2 linked regions of the Homo sapiens genome follow. The protein of the gene in region 1 purifies or fractionates together with the protein of each later gene. This does not show direct contact. Each region holds a gene or a part of one and is shown in the gene's direction. Other genes may lie near its edges.

Region 1 (9,921 bases):
GGTCCCGGCCCCTCCCTGCCCCTCTCTCCCTCTCTTCGCCCCTCCAGCCCCTTCCCTTTAGCTTACCCGCCCTCCCCACCTTCAGCTCGAGCGCCCGAGCTGTTTCCCGAAGGCGCCCAGAAGATGCAGCTACTGGCGCCCCAAGTGGGCCTGAGCCCCAGCCAGGGCGTCCTGCTGCCGAAGTCGGGTGAGCGGTGCCGGCAGCCCTGCTGGGAGGGCCAGGCCCCGGGTCACACCCCTGCTGGAAGGGCCAGGCCCTGGTCACTCCACTGATCTCAGATTCGGGACAGAAGTGCCCGGGGCAGACCCAGCCTGTCTGGGTCGGGGGAGGGCGAGACGTTGCCCAGGCCGGTGTTCCCAGGAGGAGATCGCCTTGGGGCAGGTCGGGGGCCTCCGTCCCAGGGAAGGGGGCGCGGGGTGGCGCCTCAGGCTCGATCTCTCTGCAGACCAGTGTGCGGGCGCGCTCTCCCGGGTGAGTAGACCATGGCCATGCGGAGCCGCGGACCATGGGCCCTCCCAGCTCGGTGGGCTGCACCGCGGGGCCCTCTACCTTCGGGGCAGCTAGGGACGACAGCGGGGGTGATGGGGCACCCGGGCGGATCCGAGCCGCAGCAGCCTGGGGAACCGCGGGGCTGCGCGTCGGGAGGGGGCGGAGGCAGGGGACGCCGCCCACCTGCTCCTTGTTTTGCAGTGAGGGGTCCAGCCCCTGAGTGCCCGCAGGGGTCAGCTGCTCCGTGCGCCCAGCCCTGCCCAAAGAGCCCCCTCCCTCCACACCCTGGCCCCAAGCGCAATAAACACCCTGAATGCCTGTGGCGCTGTGCGTTTCTTGGGGGCAGGGAGGGGTGGCGGGGGGGCGGCCAGGTACATGGGCGCCCTGGGGGAGGGGCCGGGTCACCCCCTGTTGCCCCTCTGGGTAGGCGTTAGCCCAGGAGGGACCGAGCCTCGGCTCCGTGGCAGGGAGGTTCCTCAGGACGGGCCCCAGCCCCAGCTCTGGGACTTTTCTACCTCCGCACGGACCCAGACCCCCAGACTGGGGGCGCCGGGAGGGCGGGACACGGACACCACGCGGCGCGCGCCCCAGGCTTCAGCGGACACCGCCGCGCGACGTGGCCTTCCGGGTCCTCCCAAGCGGCTGCCCCAGTCAGTGTCGGCGGCTTCCATCCCCAGGCGCCCCTCCGGGTCCCCCAGCTCCCCAGCCCCTGACTCCTGGCTCCAGGACCCGCCCCAGAGGCCTGGCTGTTCCGGAGACCAACGAAGCGCTCCCAACTCTGACCCAGGGCCTGTCCACGGAGAGTGGAGGGCGAGGAGGACAGGAGGAGCCGCATAAAACTCTGCCCTGCCTGGAGTCTATGTAGGACAGTGTTGTCTTTTACAGACAAGTCTCGAAGAATTTGAAGGAAAATAGCCTACTAGCTGTAATGTACCTAGTTCAGCAAAATAATAATAAAAATACTGGTTGCAAATCTGTGAATATTTGGATAGTGTTTAATCTGGGTGATGGGTCTACGGGGTGCAGTATGCTCTGATTTCTCCTTCTCAGTTGGTCAGAGTTTTGTTTGTTTGTTTTTTTGAGATGGAGTCTCGCTCTGTCGCCCAAGCTGGAGTGCAGTGGTGCGATCTCGGCTCACTGCAAGCTCCACCTGCCAGGTTCAAGTGATTCTTCTGCCTCAGCCTCCCAAGTAGCTGGGATTACAGGTGATCGCCACCACGCCCTGCTAATTTTTGTATTTTTAGTAGAGACAGGTTTTGCCATGTTGGCCAGGCTGGTCTCAAACTCCTGACCTCAAGCGATCCACCCACCTTGGCCTCCCAAAGTGCTGGGATTACGGGCGTGAGCCACTGGGCCCAGCCCAGAAAATTTGTTATTAAAAAACACCACTCGGGCCGGGCCCAGCACTTTGGGAAGCTGAGGCGGGCGGATCATGAGGTCAGGATATCGAGACCATCCTGGCTGACACGGTGAAACCCCGTCTCTACTAAAAATACAAAAAATCAGCCGGGTGTGGTGGCGGGCGCCTGTAGTCCCAGCTACTCGGGAGGCTGAGGCAGGAGAATGGCGTGAACCTGGGAGACGGAGCTTGCAGTGAGCCAAGATTGTGCCACTGCACTCCAGCCTGGGCCACAGAGCGAGACTCTGCCTCAGAAAAAAAACAAAACAAAACAAAAAAACACCACTCGGCGGAGCACAGTGGCTCTGCATCCCCCCTGCATTCCCAGGAAGATTCCGAGCCGGGAAATGCAGGTTGCCCTCCACAGCCTCAGGGATGCCCTTTCCTTCCTTCCAGGGTGGGGCAGCCTCTGGGGGTGGCTGTGGGTCCAGCTGTGGTCAGCCCCCAATCCCTTGCAGACGCATCGAGTCCCTCACCTCCCACGCTCAGCCCTTTCTCCACCTAGAAGCCCAGGGGATGGATTCACAAGATGTGTCAGATCAGGCCCCCCTGCTCAGCACCCCACAGTGGGTCCCATTGCACTGAGAGTAAAGGCCTAAGTCTTTTTTTTTGGAACGAAGTTTCGCTCTTGTTGCTCAGGCTGGAGTGCAGTGGCGCGATCTTGGCTCACTGCAACCTCTGCCTCCCGGGTTCAAGCGATTCTCCTGCCTCAGCCTCCTGAGTAGCTGGGATTATAGGTGCCCGCCACCACGCCCAGCTAATTTTTGTATATTTAGTAGAGACGGGGTTTCACCATGTTGACCAGGTTGGTCTTGAACTTCTGACCTCAGGTGATCCACCCACCTCGGCCTCCCAAAGTGCTGGGATTACAGCCGTGAACCGCCATGCCCGGCCTCAGGCCTAAGTCTTGATGGTGGCCAACAAGGTCTTCTCTTTTAGGCTTTCCTTTGACCCACCATCCACTCCCCTCCCTCCGTCCTGCTGCCAGCCCCTCACGTGTCTCAGGGCCTTTGCCCAGGTCACCCCTGCCTGGACTGCCCTTCTCCCAGTGCCACTCAGTGCACTCACTCCCGTCTCTGAAGTCTTGCTCAAATACCTCCCTTGGTTGTTGACCTCTGCTACCCCAAAACTTGACTGGCCCCCACTCCCCTAGAGCTCGTTCTCCGGACCTTTTGCTCCTCTTTTTGGCCCAGCTTCCAGGTGCTCTATGCCTTGGGAAAGGTCAGCCCTTTCCCTCCCCTGTTCTGCCTCCATCACCGACTTCAAGTGTGTGCGTGGGGACTTTGTAATCCCTCTCCTTCTGCTTGCAAAGCTCCACTAACCTTATATCTCATACACTGTATTAATGTATCCTACATTAAAGAAAATTGCTCCCATGGCTGGGTGCAGTGGCTCATGCCTGTAATCTCAGAGCTTTGAGAGGCCGAGGCAGGCGGATCACCTGAGGTAGGAGGTCGGGAGTTCGAGACCAGCCTGACCAACATGGAGAAACCCTGTCTCTACTAAAAAATACAAAAATTAGCCAGGTGTGGTGGTGGGCATCTGTAGTCCCAGCTACTCGGGAGGCTGAGGCAGGAGAATCGCTTGAACCTGGAAGGCAGAGGTTGCGGTGAGCCGAGATCGCACCACTGCACTCCAGCCTGGGCGACAGAGCGAAACTCCGTCTCAAAAAAAAAAAAAAAAAAAAAGTATAAAAAAGTATCTCAGAGAAGGACGTGGTGGAAGCCAGTGGAAAAGCTGCTGCCAGTAGATGAAGCTGGCCCGATGTGAGCCACGAAACAGAACATGACACCAGGGTGTGAGCCAAAGTGTAAAATAAACACCTGAGGTCCACACGGACCCAGCCTGAGGCTAGTTAAATGAAGGTTTTGCAGTTTTCTCGTCATGTTTTGGAACTAATCTTTGTTTCTGGTCTTGTGTCAGTTCCTACAGCTGCCACAAATTATCACAAACTTGTAGCTTGAAGCCAGAGTTCAAAATCAGTTTAATAGGGTCGAGGTATCAGCCGGGCTGTGCTCCCTCCGAGGGCTCTAGGGGAGAAACCTTCCTTGCCTCTTCTAGCTTCTTTGTCTTCTTTTTTTGTTGTTGTTGAGACAGAGTCTTGCTCTGATGTCCAGGCCAGAGTACTATGGCGCGATCAGATCACTGAAGCCTTGAACTCCTGGGCTCAAGCAGTCCTCCTGCCTCAGCCTCCTAAGTAGCTGGGACTACAGGCATGCATCGCTATGCCTGGCTAATGTTTTCTTTTTAGAGATGGGTCTTGCTGTCTTGCTCAGGCTGGCCTTGAACTCCTGGCCTCAAGCAGTCCTCCCACTCTGAACTCCCAAAGCACTGGGATTGCAGGCATGAGCCACTGGGCCTGGCCTCTTCTGGTGGGATACCCTACCTTGTTTCCACCTGAGTGACCCTCTCCTGGCAGAGAGAGAGCCGGACACACTCCATTTTAGTTTCTTCACCTGCGGCCCCCTTTCACCTTCCTCCCTGAAGGCATAGCTAGTGTAAACTGACTCAAAGCACGTCCAGGAATGCACCTACTGATAAGACATTGAGGCAAGCTGCACCAGCAGCTCCTGGGGACACGCGTGGTGGATGGCACCCAAAACCCCTGCATTTATCTCTTTGTGATAGTTTAAGCCTCTGCACCTGGAACTGTTTATTTTTTGTAACTGCATTTGTAACCAATTAATTTTTTTAACTTTTTGCCAGTTCTGCTTCCGTAAAAATTGCTTCAGCTAAAATCCCCCCTCCCCTATTTAGACCACGGTATAAAAACAAAACTAGCCCCTTCCTCGGGGCCGAGAGAATTTTGAGCGTTAGCTGCCTCTCAGTCGCGGCTAATAACGGACTCTTTAATTTGTCTCAAAGTGTGGCGTTTCTGTATAACTCGCTTGGTCACAACACTGGCTTCTGATAGCAGCCTGTAATCCTTGGCTTGTGGGCTGCATCGCTCCAGTTCCTCCCTCCATGCCATGCTGCCTTCTTTTCTGTCTCAAAGCTTCCTCTGCCTCACTTTTAAAAGGCCCTTGAGATGGCACTGAGGGCCTCCCTGGGCAATCCAGGATAATCACCCCATCTCAAGGGAATATCTGCAAACACTCCTTTCTTTTCTTTCCTTTTTTTGGGGGGAAGGGGAGACAGGATCTCACTCTGTTGCCCAGGCTGGAATGCAGTGCCCAGCATCTTCCATAGACAATAGCATTCACAGGTCCCAGGGATTAGGGCCTGATATCTGGGGCCTGCTACAGCCAGCATCTCAGAGTTCACATGACAAAGAAGAGGCCCCCCAGTCCTCTCCAAATCTGCCCCACCCCAGTCATCTTGGGGATGAATCTCCCCTTTCCACTCTTCCCAAATGCCAGGGCCATCCTTGATTGTTCTTTGTCTCCTCCTCCCTCCACCTCCAGTCCGAGCCCATGGTCCACCCCTCTCCTCTGCAGCCCCCGTCCTCTCTCCTCACAGCACAGAATACGGACTTCACACACATAAGTCAGACGTGCCACTTCCCATCCACCCCTGCTTAAACCTCCAACAGCCACCACCCCCCATTCATTCATTCACAATGTTTATTCAGTGTCTGTATGTGCCAGCCATTGTGTAAGCGCTGAAGAGACGGATACACTGGCAGGTAAAACAGACAGAAATCCCTGCCCTCATGGACCTCCTGGGGTGATGGACAATAAGCAGGGTAAATAAGTGTATTGGTGGTCACTTACTGCAGAGTGACAGGTTACCCCAAATGCAGCTGCTTAACCAGCAGGCATGCATTATCTCCCAGTGTCAGCCAGGCAGGACTCTGGGCCTTTGACACAAAGTTTCAGGAGGCTGTGGTCAAGCTGCCGGCCGATGATGTGGTCTCATGGGAAGGCTCAGCTGGGGCGTCAGCTTCCCGGTTCCCTTGCTGGCCATGGTCATCCCCTTAGGGCTGCCTCATGTCACACCCAGCAATTCAAGAGCAATTTTGTCCTATTCTAGTTGCCAGAAGCAAGTCATTAATAAAGTCCAGCCCAAGGGGAGGGGAGTGCAGAAAAGTCTAAACCCAGGAGGGTATAACAGGGAGCTAGCTGCCAGAATAAAGCAAGCCAAAGTGTACTTTCTACAGTGAGAAGTGTGAAAAATAGGGAAATGACAGGAGAGAGGGATGTGAGAGCTGGGCAGCATGCTGCAATGTCAGAACAACACCAGGGAAGGTCTCACTAAAGTGACTTTTGAGTAAAGACCTGAAGGAAGCATGTGAGTCTGGGGAAAGGATGTGCCAGGCAGAAACAGCAGCATGTGCAGAGGCCCAGGGGGCAGGAGCCAGGACTGGGAGTGAACTGGGAAGCAGGAGGAGGTGAGGCAGGCTTGCTGTGGGAGCACTCCGATATGGAAGCGTAGCTTACAGACCCACTGGCCCTCCCCACAGCACCATGCTGCCAACCTGGCCTTCTTGCCGAGCCTTGAACAGAACCATTATTTATGTGGCCAGGCCTCCGCCTGGGATCTCCCTGTCCCTGGTGGGAGCCATCCTCTTCCTCCTGCCCTCATAGCACCCGCTGCAGTTTCTCCTGGCGCTTGGCCCTGCCTGAGAGTGTGGTGTCTCTCCTATTGGATCCTAGAAGCTCCAGGGAGTCAGAGACCTTGTCTGTTGATCGATATCCAGGCCTAGGACAACAGGCACGTAGGAGGAGCTGGAGGAATACCATGCGCGGGACAGAGAGCGCAGAAGCCTTCTTCCCTGGAGATCGCTCTGTACTGTGACTTCTTTTTTTGTTTGTTTGAGACAGAGTCTCGCTCTGTTGCCCAGGCTGGAATGCAGTGGCGCGATCTCGGCTCACTGCAACCTCCACCTCCCTGGTTCAAGCAATTCCCCTGCCTCACAGGCGTGCGCCACCACACCTGGCTAATTTTTTTGTATTTTTAGTAGAGACGGGGTTTCACCATGTTGGCCAGACTGGTCTCGAACTCCTGACCTCAGGCAATCTGCCCGCCTCGGCCTCCCAAAGTGCTGGGATTACAGGCGTGAGTCACCTTGCCGGACCAACCGTAACTTCTTACGATTAGAGTTAGGAAGCTTCCGGTTTGTGTGTGAAGACGATGGAAGGGCGGGGCTCCAGGATGTATCCGCAGAGCCACGGAGGGAACCTGGACTCGGCTGGACTTGGAGCCGGGGCGGGGGCGGGAGGGGGCGAGGTTCGAGTGGGGCTGCTCGCGGGCGCGAGGGCCAGAGCCCGGGATCGCGCCGTGGAGCCCACGACCGGCGAGGCCAGCGCTGGGGGCAGGGCCTCTGGATCCCTGACCCAGGACGCCCTGCTCCGGCCCGCCCCGCGCACTAAACTCGGCCTCTAGTCGCCTGAAGCCCGCGCGGGTACCGGGTCCGCGCGGCCCGGCCTGTGCCTTTAGCCCCGCCCCGAATCCCCCCACCCTCATAACCCCGCCCCTAACCCCGCCTCCACACACAGACCCCGCCCCCAACCAGACTCCGCCCCGCGCAAGCTCCCTAAGCCCGCGACTGGCCTGCACCCGGCTCCGGAAGTCGTTCTTCCGCGCAGGAGCCCTGAGCCCGCACAGCCCCGCCCCTCCCGGCGCCCAAGCCCCGCCCCGCCGGGTTCCCGCTCGCCCGGCGCCATGGATCCGCTGTCGCCGCCGCTCTGCACGCTGCCGCCGGGCCCCGAGCCGCCCCGCTTCGTGTGCTACTGCGAAGGGGAGGAAAGCGGGGAGGGGGACCGCGGCGGCTTCAACCTCTAGTGAGTGGGGGTCCGCGGGGAGGTAGGGGTGCAGGGAGCTCCGCGGGCGGCCCCGCCTGACAGGCCTTCTCCCCCAGCGTGACCGACGCCGCGGAGCTTTGGAGCACCTGCTTCACGCCGGACAGCCTGGCGGCCCTCGTGGGTAACTGGGCGGGTCTGGGAGCCGCCACACCCCTCCTTGCAGTGCAGATCGTCTATGGGGCGACAGACATCTGGGATTCCCCAGAAGGCTCTGACACCCTCTGCCCGCCCTGTAGCTGTAGTCCTCCCATTGGCTAGGGCTCTGGGGTCGGGCAGGTTTCGGGTGCCCCCAGTGGGCCTCGGGTTCCAGGCAGCTCGTGACAAGCCCCTGTGCTCTCTAGAAAGCCCGTTTTGGCCTGAGTGCGGCTGAGGACATCACCCCCCGGTTCAGGTGAGACCCAAGCAGGGAGGAAGGACGGGTGGGGAGGAGGAGGGTCTGCCACAGCTCTCCGCACCTCTCCTCTCCCAGGGCAGCCTGTGAGCAGCAAGCTGTGGCTCTGACTCTGCAGGAGGACAGAGCATCCCTGACGCTTTCAGGGGGGCCCTCGGCACTGGCCTTTGACCTCTCCAAGGTACCAGGCCCAGAGGCAGCCCCCAGGCTGCGGGCGCTGACACTGGGCCTGGCAAAACGCGTGTGGAGCCTGGAGCGGCGACTGGCAGGTAGGATTGGGGGTGGGCACCTCATACCTTCACTGGGGTCCCCTGCTCTTGCCCCCACTCCTGGCACTGAGTGGGGTTCCCATGGGCTTTCCTCCCCAGCTGCAGAAGAGACAGCTGTCAGCCCGAGGAAGAGCCCCCGGCCTGCAGGGCCTCAGCTCTTCTTACCAGGTAAGGCATGTCCGCCTGTGACTCAAGTAGGGCTGTGCTCTTTAACCTGGAACTCAGTTTCCCCCCAAACAAGACTCACGCTCCAGAGAGAATGCCTATCTATTCGGAGAAGGTTGTGGTTGGGATGCTGCCAGGTTCAGGAGCTGCCCCTGTCCTGTTTTCCCCCAGACCCAGATCCCCAGAGAGGTGGCCCTGGACCTGGAGTCAGGAGGCGGTGTCCAGGAGAGTCGCTCATCAACCCCGGGTTCAAGAGGTACCCTCCCACAGCCCCCTTCCTGCGCCCAGGGTCCAATCCTGGACCCCACCCCTTTCTCCACACCATAGTGCCATAGTGACACCCCTCTTCCCTCCCAGTAAGAAACCAGCTGGTGGCGTGGACTTCGATGAGACCTGAAGGTGCAGCACAAGCGTGGCCCCGCGGGGAGTCCGCCTATGAGGGGAGAGGCAGTCTTTGAGGCCCCCATCAGAGACCCCCCGCCACCACCTCCACCTGCCTGTCCTGGGCCAGGACTAACACGGCTCCTCAAATTCCTTCCCTGTCAAATAAACAGCTCCCTTGGTTGGAGGCTCTGGTGGGGCTCTGACTCCTGGCACTGGCCTGGGAAGGGATCAGGGAACACCCCTGGGCCTGTGTTCTGGGTGTAGGGCCACAGGATGTGAACAGATGCTGCAGCCTCTCAGCTCCCTGGAGACTTCCTTGCTGGGCCGGAGGGAGGTGAGCACTCTCAGACCGTCCAGCTATTCCAGCCCTGCCAGCCCAGGAGCTGAGAGGGGCCCAGCCAGGCAGGGCCAGGGCTCCCCAAGGCTTAGAACTTTGTTCCCACCCTCCCAGGCCGCACCCAGGTAGGGCACGGAGCCCCGTGGGAGGATGCAGACAGAAGTCCCGTGTAGACCCTGAGACACTGGAAGTGCCCTGCGGGGAGGGGAGCGCCTGCCCCGGGACAGGATTGAGGAATGTGCCAGCCCCCATCCACCTGGGGCACCCCGCCCCACCCCGGCCTGACTGGTTTGGGAGCCCAGTCCGGTCCTGGAGATCCCTGAGGCCACCGGTTGCAGGAGGCCTGGAGTCTGCGCCTTCTTAGCGTGGAGGATGGGACCGGCCCGACCCCCGGCGCTCCTGCCCCTGTGGTTCTGGGCTATCGGGCTGAGCGTCCCACCCTGGGGTTTGGGGATGGGAAGTGATCCCGAGACCTCTGGCCCTTCAGATGTCAGGACACCCTCACTCCCGACAAAGATGCCTTTATTGGGCGACAGACGCGGGGTGGGGCGCTAGCGGGGGTGCACGGCGGGCCGGTAGGCCGCCAGGATCTCGGCGCTGTGCGGACACGTGTATTTGAACTCTTTCTCCTGCATCGCGCTGTCCAGGTAGCGGCGTACGCCGCGCAGCTCCGCGGGGATGGGCGCCTGGCGGAAGTGCGCGCACACCGTCTGCGGGCAGGATCGCGGGGCGCGGTCAGGAC
Region 2 (10,596 bases), on another chromosome or scaffold:
AGAAGAGCAGTTCTAACAACACAGCTTGGAAGCAAGTCCTAGGGGAAGTGGTTGCTTGTATGTAAGGAATACTGTATTTATAACTTTAGGTATTTCTAATTGGCAAATGGCGTATTCTGTATACTTAGTTGTTGTCAGACAGATGACCTTAAGGTGTTTCAGGAGCCTTAATTATCAAAGGAAGAGGCTGAATTCTAATCTAGTCCATAAGCCTCATTCACCAAGATAAAAATCAGTGATAATATGTTATTTGAAATTTTTTAATCATTAAGTATTGGGGGAAAAAAGAACACTCCATTAACTCTTATCTCTTAATTTAACCAGAAATGTAAGAACCTTACATTTATGGAACATTTCGTTTATATCATACAATTGTGCTGGCATCATTCTTAATAATATTAACATGAATTATCATTTCACTAGATGGTACTGATTTATACTGAGGGTAAGAGACACATTTGGTTTGTCAACACTCTTTGCAATTATCTAGACCGGTACCTACGAAATACATTCTCAATGAATACTTTTTTGATTGAAAGAATGAAAGGATGTCTCAAATATATAAAACTGGTCTGCGAAAAAAGAAAATAAATTGTTCATTTTAGAGTTAGCATGTTTTTGAATGAAAACTCCAGTTTTATATTTACTTATTGTTGACATTTGTCATAACTGCAGTATATTCTACCATTTATTTTTTAGCTAGTGGAATTTAATGTGACAAAAATGTGATATCAAACTTATGTATTCTCAGGTGGATTGTTACCATTTTGGTTTCCTGTACCAAACAAGCTTTAAAACAGAAAATTTTATAGTGCACTATGTGGTCATTTTATTTTCAAAAATATCTAATAGTGTTTAAATCTCTCATGTGTTTTATGCCTTCATTCATTTCTGTTTTCTTGTTTACATATCAGGGACAAAATAGGAAATCAAATAATATAACACTGTGCCCATGTTTAGTTAAGGCTTATTCCATAAATGTGATCTGGTACTTTACATGTAGACAATAACATCACTAAGGACATTGAAACAATTAAATAATTGAAACATGGAAACGGATTTCCTTCCGATACCTCATCCTGTTTTTTTTTGTTCAACATTTTGATTACTGCAACCTTCAATTTGGACAATTTTTTTTCTCTTTTTATTTGAGTGAAATTAAAAGGATGTAAGTTTTCTTTTAATCTCCCCTACACTAAACTCACTGATTTCCATTAGCAATGTTTTATCTAATGAATGTTTTTGAGGTCCAATTATCTAATTATCATGTGGTCTATCATCACATCAGTATTACAGGCGGTTATATCACAGGGGTAAGTCACAAAGTGGGTTAATGATCGATGACTCTGACTTTCATAAGAATTCCTATTGGCAGTAGGAAACTTATATCACCCATCTCTGGAGTAGTTTGAAGTTTATTAAAGAGTAAATTAAACTTTACTAATTGTTCTATTATCCACTAATTAGATCCACTTATAATTATCTTGAGTGTAAATATTTTTTGACTTATATGGAAATAGTGACAGAACTCAGTGGAAAGAGGATTTTAATAAATCAAGCAGTGAAATGGGTTTATGATGCAATACCAACTAGAATCCTAATGGTATGATAAGACTGTATGTCTTCTGAGCTCCAGTACAAGCTTAGGATGTGTGCAGGCTTTTGGCTAGTTATATATAGGTATCTGAAGGAAAAAAATCTTCTTTCCTCACTTACATCTTCATCTACCTATAAACACTGCAAAAGTGATGCTTTTCAGTGTTAAAGTGAGTCTCAGTCTGACTTCTACCAGTTCCTTGTTTTTTGGTCATGTTGGGCTGCTCATGTTTTATGCCTTATTATGTGGTTCAGTTGCATTCTTGCTGAATTTTATTATTTCCATTGCCTTTATTCTTGGTCACTGAAGTTTTAGAGCATCGCGTGCTTACAGCTATACTTTTTCCAGATGTTCTTGGCACAGAATTCAAAACTGGTGACCAGGTTGGTTTTTTAGGATTGAAGCCCTATGTAGGCAGTCAGATTTCCATGTTTACTTTTATAGGAATTTTTCAAGTACATTTTTGAACAAATAGCTGTTTTACATAATTAATTTCCTTTCATACGTTTTTTTCTCCTTCAAAAATTAAATATTCCGTAATAATCAGCACAGTATTTATTAGGAGAGGAAAATAAGAGGATATCTAGGATGATAACTGACAGATATCTAAAATGTTGTCTAAGATATTAGCACTTGAATTTGAGCTCCACAGGCTAGCATTTTTGGAATGAATGAATGATTACATATTTTCAGACAGGTATCTTTTCATTTTAATGAAATTTAGAATACTTTTAACTAGATGCTTTTTAAATAGATGTTCTCTGTTTTCTTTTGTGTTTTCTTCAAGTTTTTCTATGGCCGCATTAAAGATGGCATCTACAAATTTATTTCCTATTTCTCTGTGAAATAACTGTTCTTCCTAGGTATTGGTGAGTTAAAGTTAGATAGTTACTTTTTAACATAATGCAAACACAAAATATGAAATTATTCCTTAAATAGGAAGCATTTATCTTCTTCTTTTTTTTTTTTTAGAAGAGCTACTAGGGCATTTGAAAGATCAATAGGTTTGATAGTGATGATCATATTAAATGTGTCCACTTCCAATAGAGAAAATGTGAAAGTGTTTTAGAAGCTGTTAATATATGAATATAAGCTATTTTTATTCTTACCTCCTTCCAAAGGTTGTGTGACGTATGAGAATCATATTTTATTATCAAAACTTGTTATCAAAAATTGATCATATAAAAATATTGGTACCTTGCAAGACTCCCTTTTTCATTAACTGTCATGGGTCTTCCAGACACTTGATAGCATAGAGACCAAAGGTATGAAAATGTGTGTTCCATTTTAGGGATTCTTTAATCATGATTTCCTTATATTCTGTAATATTTTATACTAATGTTGTTTTTCAAAATTATGGATGGAAATAATTTATCCAATGTTTCATGTCTCTGCTTCACCTCAAAATAAAACATGCAGAGAGATATGAGTATTAATCCCAGCTTCACTAGTTACTTACTTCATCACCCTAGACCATTACTTGATCTCTGTGAGCCTCAGTTTTCTCTTTTGCAAAATGAAAATAATATCTGTTTTTCAGTTTTATAAGGAATTAAAATAGATAAGTGTAATGCATAAGTATGAAATTATACAACCATATGAGACTTTTATCATTACTGTGATAGCCTAAATTAACACAGGAAACCATCCAACCACACACACATTCCAACAAATAACGAGATTGAATCTTGTAATTTTAAAAACAAACAAGTATGCAGACCCATTGCCACTTTTGAGTGTAAGAAAGGGAAAACCTCAGACACCATGTTTGAAGAGGTATTTCAAAACCAAAGTAATTGATGAGAATTAAAGCTTACTTGTAGATTCATGGAATATCTGAACTAGATATACTTCTAGATGACAGTGAGTATAATGTTTGAGTGAGGTAGAATGTTGAGGCTTCAGACCTCTTAGGGAATTGGAGTTGAGCTCTCAGCATAAAGAAAGGAACCTGGAAAATATATGCTGTTAATAAAATAATCTTTTAAAAAAACTACTACTCTCTGTCCAGAGGATGCAGCATAAAAACAGAACAATCCCTAAGGACTATGAGTGAATAAAAGTCTCAAGAAAAATCAGAACCCTAAACCTGTGTTATGTGTGGATGGGAGGTTTAAAATGGAACACTTTGCCTCAAATGTAAAAATCGAGGTGAGAAATTAACTTTCAAAACTAGTCCCAAACTGATAAAACTTGTAATGACCCCCAGAAAGGCAACCTTCATTTAAGACCACTTCTTCCCAGAGCACTTGCCACTTTGGCTAGAGGTGAGCTGTACTCAAATGTTACAAAGCATGAAAGGAAAACAAGTAAAACAAGAATTTTTCCACAGATAGAAGAAACATAATTTATACCCCAGGAGCCACACATAAATACAGAAATGAAAGAGATCTTAAAATACGTTTATTTAAATATTTAAAAGAAGGGTAGGATAAGAACAGGATATAATGACAAAGGAACAAAGATAATATCTAGAATTGAAAATATAATTATTGAAACAAAAATCTCAATGATAGTAAAACATCAGCTTTAAAAATACCTAGATAAGAGAATTGGAAGCGGTCTCTAGTATAGTATGTGTTGCAGAGGAGATGCTCGTACATTTTAGTTTCCTTCCTATTATTTCCTTATCATCTCCTTTCATCCATATTTTCTGTTGTTGGCACATGATATGAGAATAGTGAGCTCCACTTTTGCTTTTGTTTTACTCTGCCCATATGAGTGAGAAACACAGTATAGGCTATTGAATCTTTGATGCAAGGAAGAAAGATGTTATAAAATACTGAACTTATTATTCATTGTAGGAAATTATCTGGCTTTGACCTAAGAGCAGTTACACAAAGTGGGAGTTTCTGTAATAATTTACAATGCGTTTCATCTGAAGACAGAGAAAGAATGTCAAGGGTTTAATGTATTTTACGAGATGTGAGTCTAAATTAATGCATTTCTCAAAAATTGCTAGTTCAGTAAAAAGGAATAATTTGATTTAAAAATGTGTAGTATAGGGATTGATTTTACTTGTTTGAATTTCTGTTACATGTGATAAATTAGTACTAACAGATAAACTAATATTTTCTCATGTGTAGTCATTTACTTTTCATTTTAAAACTTTTGTTAATATTTCCCATAGTTTCTGAATCAGAGATTTCCCAAGAAGCTGATGACATGGCAATGGAAAAAGGGAAATATGTTGGTGAACTGAGAAAAGCATTGTTGTCAGGAGCAGGACCAGCTGATGTATACACGTTTAATTTTTCTAAAGAGTCTTGTTATTTCTTCTTTGAGAAAAACCTGAAAGATGTCTCAGTAAGTAAAACTTTCCAAAATGTTACATAGTAAAATGTCAGAGCATTTATTGAGGAATTATATTTAAATTTAAGTGACTACTATATTATTCCCAGAACACCTCAGAAGCAAAAGCTTGAAAAGTACTTGGTTTCCAAATTAGAAGAATACTTCAAAGCTAAAGTCATTAAATATATTAATGAATCATGAAAAATAAATATTGGAAAATGTGTTTAGTTTTTAATGCTTGAAAAATTTTAAAGTATTACAGAGTTAATTATACAAAAGAATAATCTTGAAAAAGGTGAGATCAGAAGTTTTAGGCCATCGTGACAGGTCTTATTGAAAAAAGTTTTGTGAAATATTGATTTTAAGAAATAAAATCAATCAAAATATATCTTTGAATATAGAATAATTATGACTTATTTTCTACTTTACTAGAGTATATTTGAAATTGAAAAATGCATAGTAAGTATTAAGGATACTTTATATTGTCAGATTTAAAAATATTAAAATAGAAATAACTTGAAGCCTAAGCTTTGCAAACAAGAGTATCTGCTACTTATTCTGCTCAGTTCCTGCACCAATTCAGATCAAGGCAGGTGGTTTATTTATTAAAGTCTGGCACTAATTATTTGTATATTTTACCTAAGTTTAATAGATACTGAATTTGTTTTTTTAACCAGTGGTTTTCAGTCATATATGAGATCTATCATTTCTGAAGGAGAGGGAAGGAAATGTTTGCTACATTAAGTTAACAGAAATGTATTGAGAATTTGTTTTAGTGCTCAACTGAGTTTAGGAAATTCTTTTAAATCAACCTTTTAAATTTGGAATAATTAAAGAGATTTCATTAATTAGATAAACATTTGTAGAAACAAATGGAGTCATTATAAATTTATATTATCGTGTAGGGAATAATGCAGAGAAACTACCCTTAGTAATTTATATTTAAAATAAACATACTTTTTCTAATTAGCTGCCAATTTATATAAGTTTCAATATGCTGAATTTCTTAAAATGGTAATTTAAAATAGGTTCAGTAAGAAGGTTGGAACTAGCTACTACAATTTTGTTATTTATTGTAAGTGTTCTTTCCTGTGGCCCAAGCTCAATCGGATGATATTATATGTTACAGAAGTGCAGACTCTTCTAATGTTTTGAAGCAGATCATTGCCAAATTGGGATTAATGCCATTTCCCATTCACTAAACATTTGCATGTAACAACTAGCATTATTTTGTGCAGCGATTTTCTAGTTTTTATCTGTTTCACACATATTGATACATAATAAATTCCAAATTAGTGAGGTACATTTTAGAAGGCTGAAAGGCTTTTGAAATTTTTGACATGCTAAAAGACGGGGCTTGGTACAGTTGGCATGTATATTAATCTGTTCTCACACTGCTAATAAAGACATACCCAAGGCTGGGTAATTTATAAAGGAAAAAGATTTAATTGACTCACAGTTCCATATGGCTGGGGAGGCCTCACAATCATGGTGGAAAGCAAAAGAGGAGCAAAGTCACATCTTACATGGTGGCAGGCAAAAGAACATGTGCAGGGGAACTCCCCTTTATAAAATCATTAGATCTCATGAGACTTATTCACTATCATGAGAACAACACAGGAAAGACCCCTCATTCAGGATTCAGTTACCTCCCGCTGGGTCCCTCTCATAACACTTGGGAATTATGAGAACTACAATTGAAGATGAGATTTGGGTGGAGACACAGCCAAACCATATCATTCCGCCCAGCCCCTCCCAAATCTCATGTCCTCACATTTCAAAACCAATCATTCCTTCCCAAGAGTCCCCCAGAGTCTTAACTCATTTCAGCATTAACTCACAAGTCCACAGTCCAAAGTCTCATCTGAGACAAGGCAAGTTCCTTCTACCTATGAGCTTGTAAAATCATAAACAAGTTAGTTACTTCCCAGATACAATGAGGGTACAGGCATTGGGTAAACATACCCATTTCAAATGGGAGAAATTGGCCAAAACAAAGAGGCTACAGGCGCCATGCAAGTTCGAAATCCAATAGGGCAGTCATGAAACCTTAAAGTTCCAAAATGATCTCCTTTGACTCCATATCTCACATCCAGGTGATGCTAATGCAAGAGGCGGACTCCCACAACCTTGAGCAGCTCCACCCCTGTGGCTTTGCAGGGTACAGCTCCCTTCCTGGCTGCTTTCATGGGCTGGCATTGAGTGTCTGTGGCTTTCCCAGGGGCACAGTGCAAGCTGTCGGTGGATCTACCATTCTGGGGTCTGCAGGAAAGTGGCCCTAATCTTATAGCTTCACTAGGCAGTGCCCCAGTGGGGACTCTGTATAGGGGCTCCAACCCCACATTTCCCTTCTATACTGCCCTAGCAGAGGTTCTTCATGAGGGCCCTGCCCCTGCAGCAAACTTCTGCCTGGACATCCAAACATTTCTTTCTTTTTTTTTTTTTTTGAGACGGAGTCTCGCTGTGTCACCCAGGTTGGAGTGCAATGGCGTGATCTCCATCTCCACTCACTGCAAGCTCCGCCTCCTGGGTTCATGCCATTCTCCTGCCTCAGCCTCCCAGGTAGCTGGGACTATAGGCGTCCGCCACCATGCCCAGCTAATTTTTTGTATTTTTAGTAGAGACGGGGTTTCACCATGTTAGCCAAGATGGTCTCAATCTCCTGACCTCGTGATCCGCCCGCCTCAGCCCCCCAAAGTGCTGGGATTACAGGCGTGAGCCACCGCACCCAGCGCAGACATTTCTATACATCATCTGAAATCTAGGCAGAGGTTCCCAAACCTCAATTCTTGGCTTCTGTGCACTCGCAGGCTCAACACCATATGGAAGCTGCCAAGACTTGGGACTTGTACCCTCTGAAGCAAGGCCCGATCTGTACCTTTGCCTGTTTTAGCGACTGCTGGAGTGACTGGGATGCAGGGAACCAAGTCCCTAGGCTGCACGCTGCAATGGGGGCCTGGACCTGGCCCAGGAAACTGTTTTTACCGCCTAGGCCTCTGGAGCCTATAATGGGAGGGGCTCCTGTGAACATCTCTGACATGCCTCGGAGACATTTCCCCCATTGTCTTGGTGATTAACATTTGGCTCCTTATTACTTATGCAAATTTATGCAGCAGGCTTGAATTTTTCCCCCAAATATGGGCTTTTCTTTTTTATTGCATCGTCAGGCTGCAAATTTTCCAAACTTTTATGGTCTGCTTCCTGTTGAATGCTTTGCTGCTTAGAAATTTCTTCTGCTAGATACCCTAAGTCATTTCTCTCAAGTTGAAAGTTCCACAGATCTCTGGGGAAGGGGCAAAATGCCCCCAGTCTCTTTGCATAGCAAGAGTGACCTTTAGTTCCCAACAAGTTCCTCATGTCCATCTGAGACCACCTAAGCCTGGACTTCGTTGTCTGTATTAGCATTTTGTTCCAAGCCATTCAACAATTCTCTAGGAAATTCCAAACTTTTTCACATCTTCCTGTCTTCTGAGCCCTCAAGTCTCTAGGAAGTTCCAAACTTTCCCACATTTTCCTGTCTTCTTTTGAGCCCTCCAAACTGTTCCAGTCTCTGCCTGTTACCCAGTTCCGAAGTTTCTTTCACATTTTCGGGTACCTTTATAGCAGCACTCCAGTCTACCGGTACCAATTTACTGTATTAGTCTGTTCTTACACTGCTAATAAAGACATACCCGAGGCTGGGTAGTTTATAAAGGAAAGAGGTTTAAATGATTCACAGTTCCACATGGCTGGGGAGGCCTCATAATCATGGCAGAAAGAGAAGGAGGAACAAAGTTACGTCTTACATGGTGGCAGGCAAGAGAGCATGTGCAGGGGAGCTCCCCTTTATAAAACCTTTAGATCTCATGAGACTTATTCACTTTCATGAGAACAGCACAGGAAAGACCCACCCCCATGATTCGATTACCTCCCACCATGTTTGTCTTACAACATGTGGGAATTATGGGATCTACAATTCAAGATGAGATTTAGGCCGGGTGCCTCCCAGCACTTTGGGAGGCTGAGATGGGCGGATCACCTGAGGTTGGGAGTTCCAGACCAGGCTGACCAACATGGAGAAACCCCGTCTCTACTAAGAATACAAAATTAGCTGTGCATGGTGGCGCATACCTGTAATTCCAGCTACTTGGGAGGCTGAGGCAGGAGAATGGCTTGAACCCGGAAGGCAGAGGTTGCGGTAAGCCAAGATCACACCATTGCACTTCAGCCTGGGCAACAAGTGTGAAACTCTGTCTCAAAAAACAAACAAACAAACAAACAAAAAAACAAGATGAGATTTGGGTGGGGACACAGCCAAACCATATCAGCCTGGATGGAGTACTTGCCATGACTGGCAGTACATCAGGTTTTACCCTTTCTATGAAGAAAGAGCTTTAAGTCCTCTTGATTCATGTCTTCTACAGTTGGTTTGGCATATATCAACATCAAAGACTCATAATAATCCTGAAAGATTTTTGCTTACCACCCTGAAAGTAAACAACTTTATCAGAGCCAGCATCTTGAACTACAGGTACTACCTTTTCAACAAATGTTCACAAGTAATGGAAGCAGCCTGAAAGATTACCAGCAATGCAAAAAGTGTGCTGGTTCCCCAGAGAATGTCTTAAAGCACTACATTGCAGTCTAAATATCTGTCTCCTTATTTATTCATTTATTTATTTGTTTATGAGAAAGAAAAGAATATTCTCAGAACGGCTTGACAAGGAGGAGTTTATTCATGGCTTGGCTTGAGAGATATTTTGGATATTTAGATGAGGTAAAACTTTCAGTGGATGGATGCAGCTGAGAGATCACAAGTTCATTTGGCCAAGGTGTCATGGGAGTCTTCCAGTATTCAGGATGTGCTTCTGCAGACTGATTTCAGAGTGACAATGTCTTGTAGATTCATCTGCTGGCAAAAAAAATCTGCAGACAATGGGAAACATGGCAGACAGAATACTTTTTTAAAGCTAATTTTGCTTGGATGACCTAAAAATTGAGAAGGAGTTTGTAATCCTTTTCTTGATGATACAAACATCTGATTGTTGCCAAAAATGACCTCCTAAACTTAGAAGAAAGGAAAAGAATGAACATAAATTCAACTAAAAAAGTTGTGAATTCTGTTGTTTCTTAATGTAAGGTTGCTCCTCCGTGACAAAGACTTGCTCCCAGATGCATACCTCTGGGAGTCAGGGTTTTAGGCATTTATTGCCATCAGTTCAAGAAATTTTGTGTATCTAATTGTGTGTTCACTGTGCAATTTGAACATTTTGAATATCTAACTTATATAAGAATTGTTTGAAATTTACATTTATAACAAACTTTCTTTTTTTCTTAAAAGGAAGTAACCACTATTTTAGTATTCAAAAATACCTGATATTTTGAAAATCCTGTCTTATGTTTTGTCTGAGTGAAAGAATTACCAGTTTCTCTCTCTCTTTTTTTTTTTTTTTTTTTTTTTTTTTTTTTGAGATGGAGCCTCACTCTGTCACCCAGGCTGGAGTGCAATGGTGCAATCTCAGCTCACTGCAACCTCTGCCTCCCAGGTTCAAGTGATTCTCCTGCCTCAGTCTCCTGAGTAGCTGGGATTACAGGTGCATGTCACCATGCCCAGCTGATTTTTGTATTTTTAGTAGAGACGGGGTTGTGCCATATGGGCCAGGCTGGTCTCGAACTCCTGACCTCAAGTGATCTGCCTGCCTCGGCCTCCCAAAGTGCTGGGATTA

The links.
Region 2: the proteins of PAXX (region 1) and XRCC4 purify together in Homo sapiens (affinity purification with western blotting; 2 studies listed by BioGRID and IntAct, with this or other methods). This does not show direct contact.

Annotation. Positions count from the first base shown.
Region 1 is NC_000009.12:136,984,951-136,994,871, forward strand, and holds PAXX (protein PAXX), read left to right. Parts: upstream 1-7,471; 5' UTR 7,472-7,493; coding exon 7,494-7,612; intron 7,613-7,689; coding exon 7,690-7,750; exon of another isoform or gene 7,751-7,754; intron 7,755-7,974; coding exon 7,975-8,024; intron 8,025-8,102; coding exon 8,103-8,293; intron 8,294-8,392; coding exon 8,393-8,461; intron 8,462-8,629; coding exon 8,630-8,714; intron 8,715-8,815; coding exon 8,816-8,855; coding exon of another isoform or gene 8,856-8,916; 3' UTR 8,917-9,026; downstream 9,027-9,921. Other genes in the region: LCNL1 (lipocalin-like 1 protein), read left to right, coding at 1-61; CLIC3 (chloride intracellular channel protein 3), read right to left, coding at 9,731-9,889. UniProt on the Homo sapiens protein: Non-essential DNA repair protein involved in DNA non-homologous end joining (NHEJ); participates in double-strand break (DSB) repair and V(D)J recombination.
Region 2 is NC_000005.10:83,106,301-83,116,896, forward strand, and holds part of XRCC4 (DNA repair protein XRCC4), read left to right. Parts: intron 1-4,727; coding exon 4,728-4,903; intron 4,904-10,596.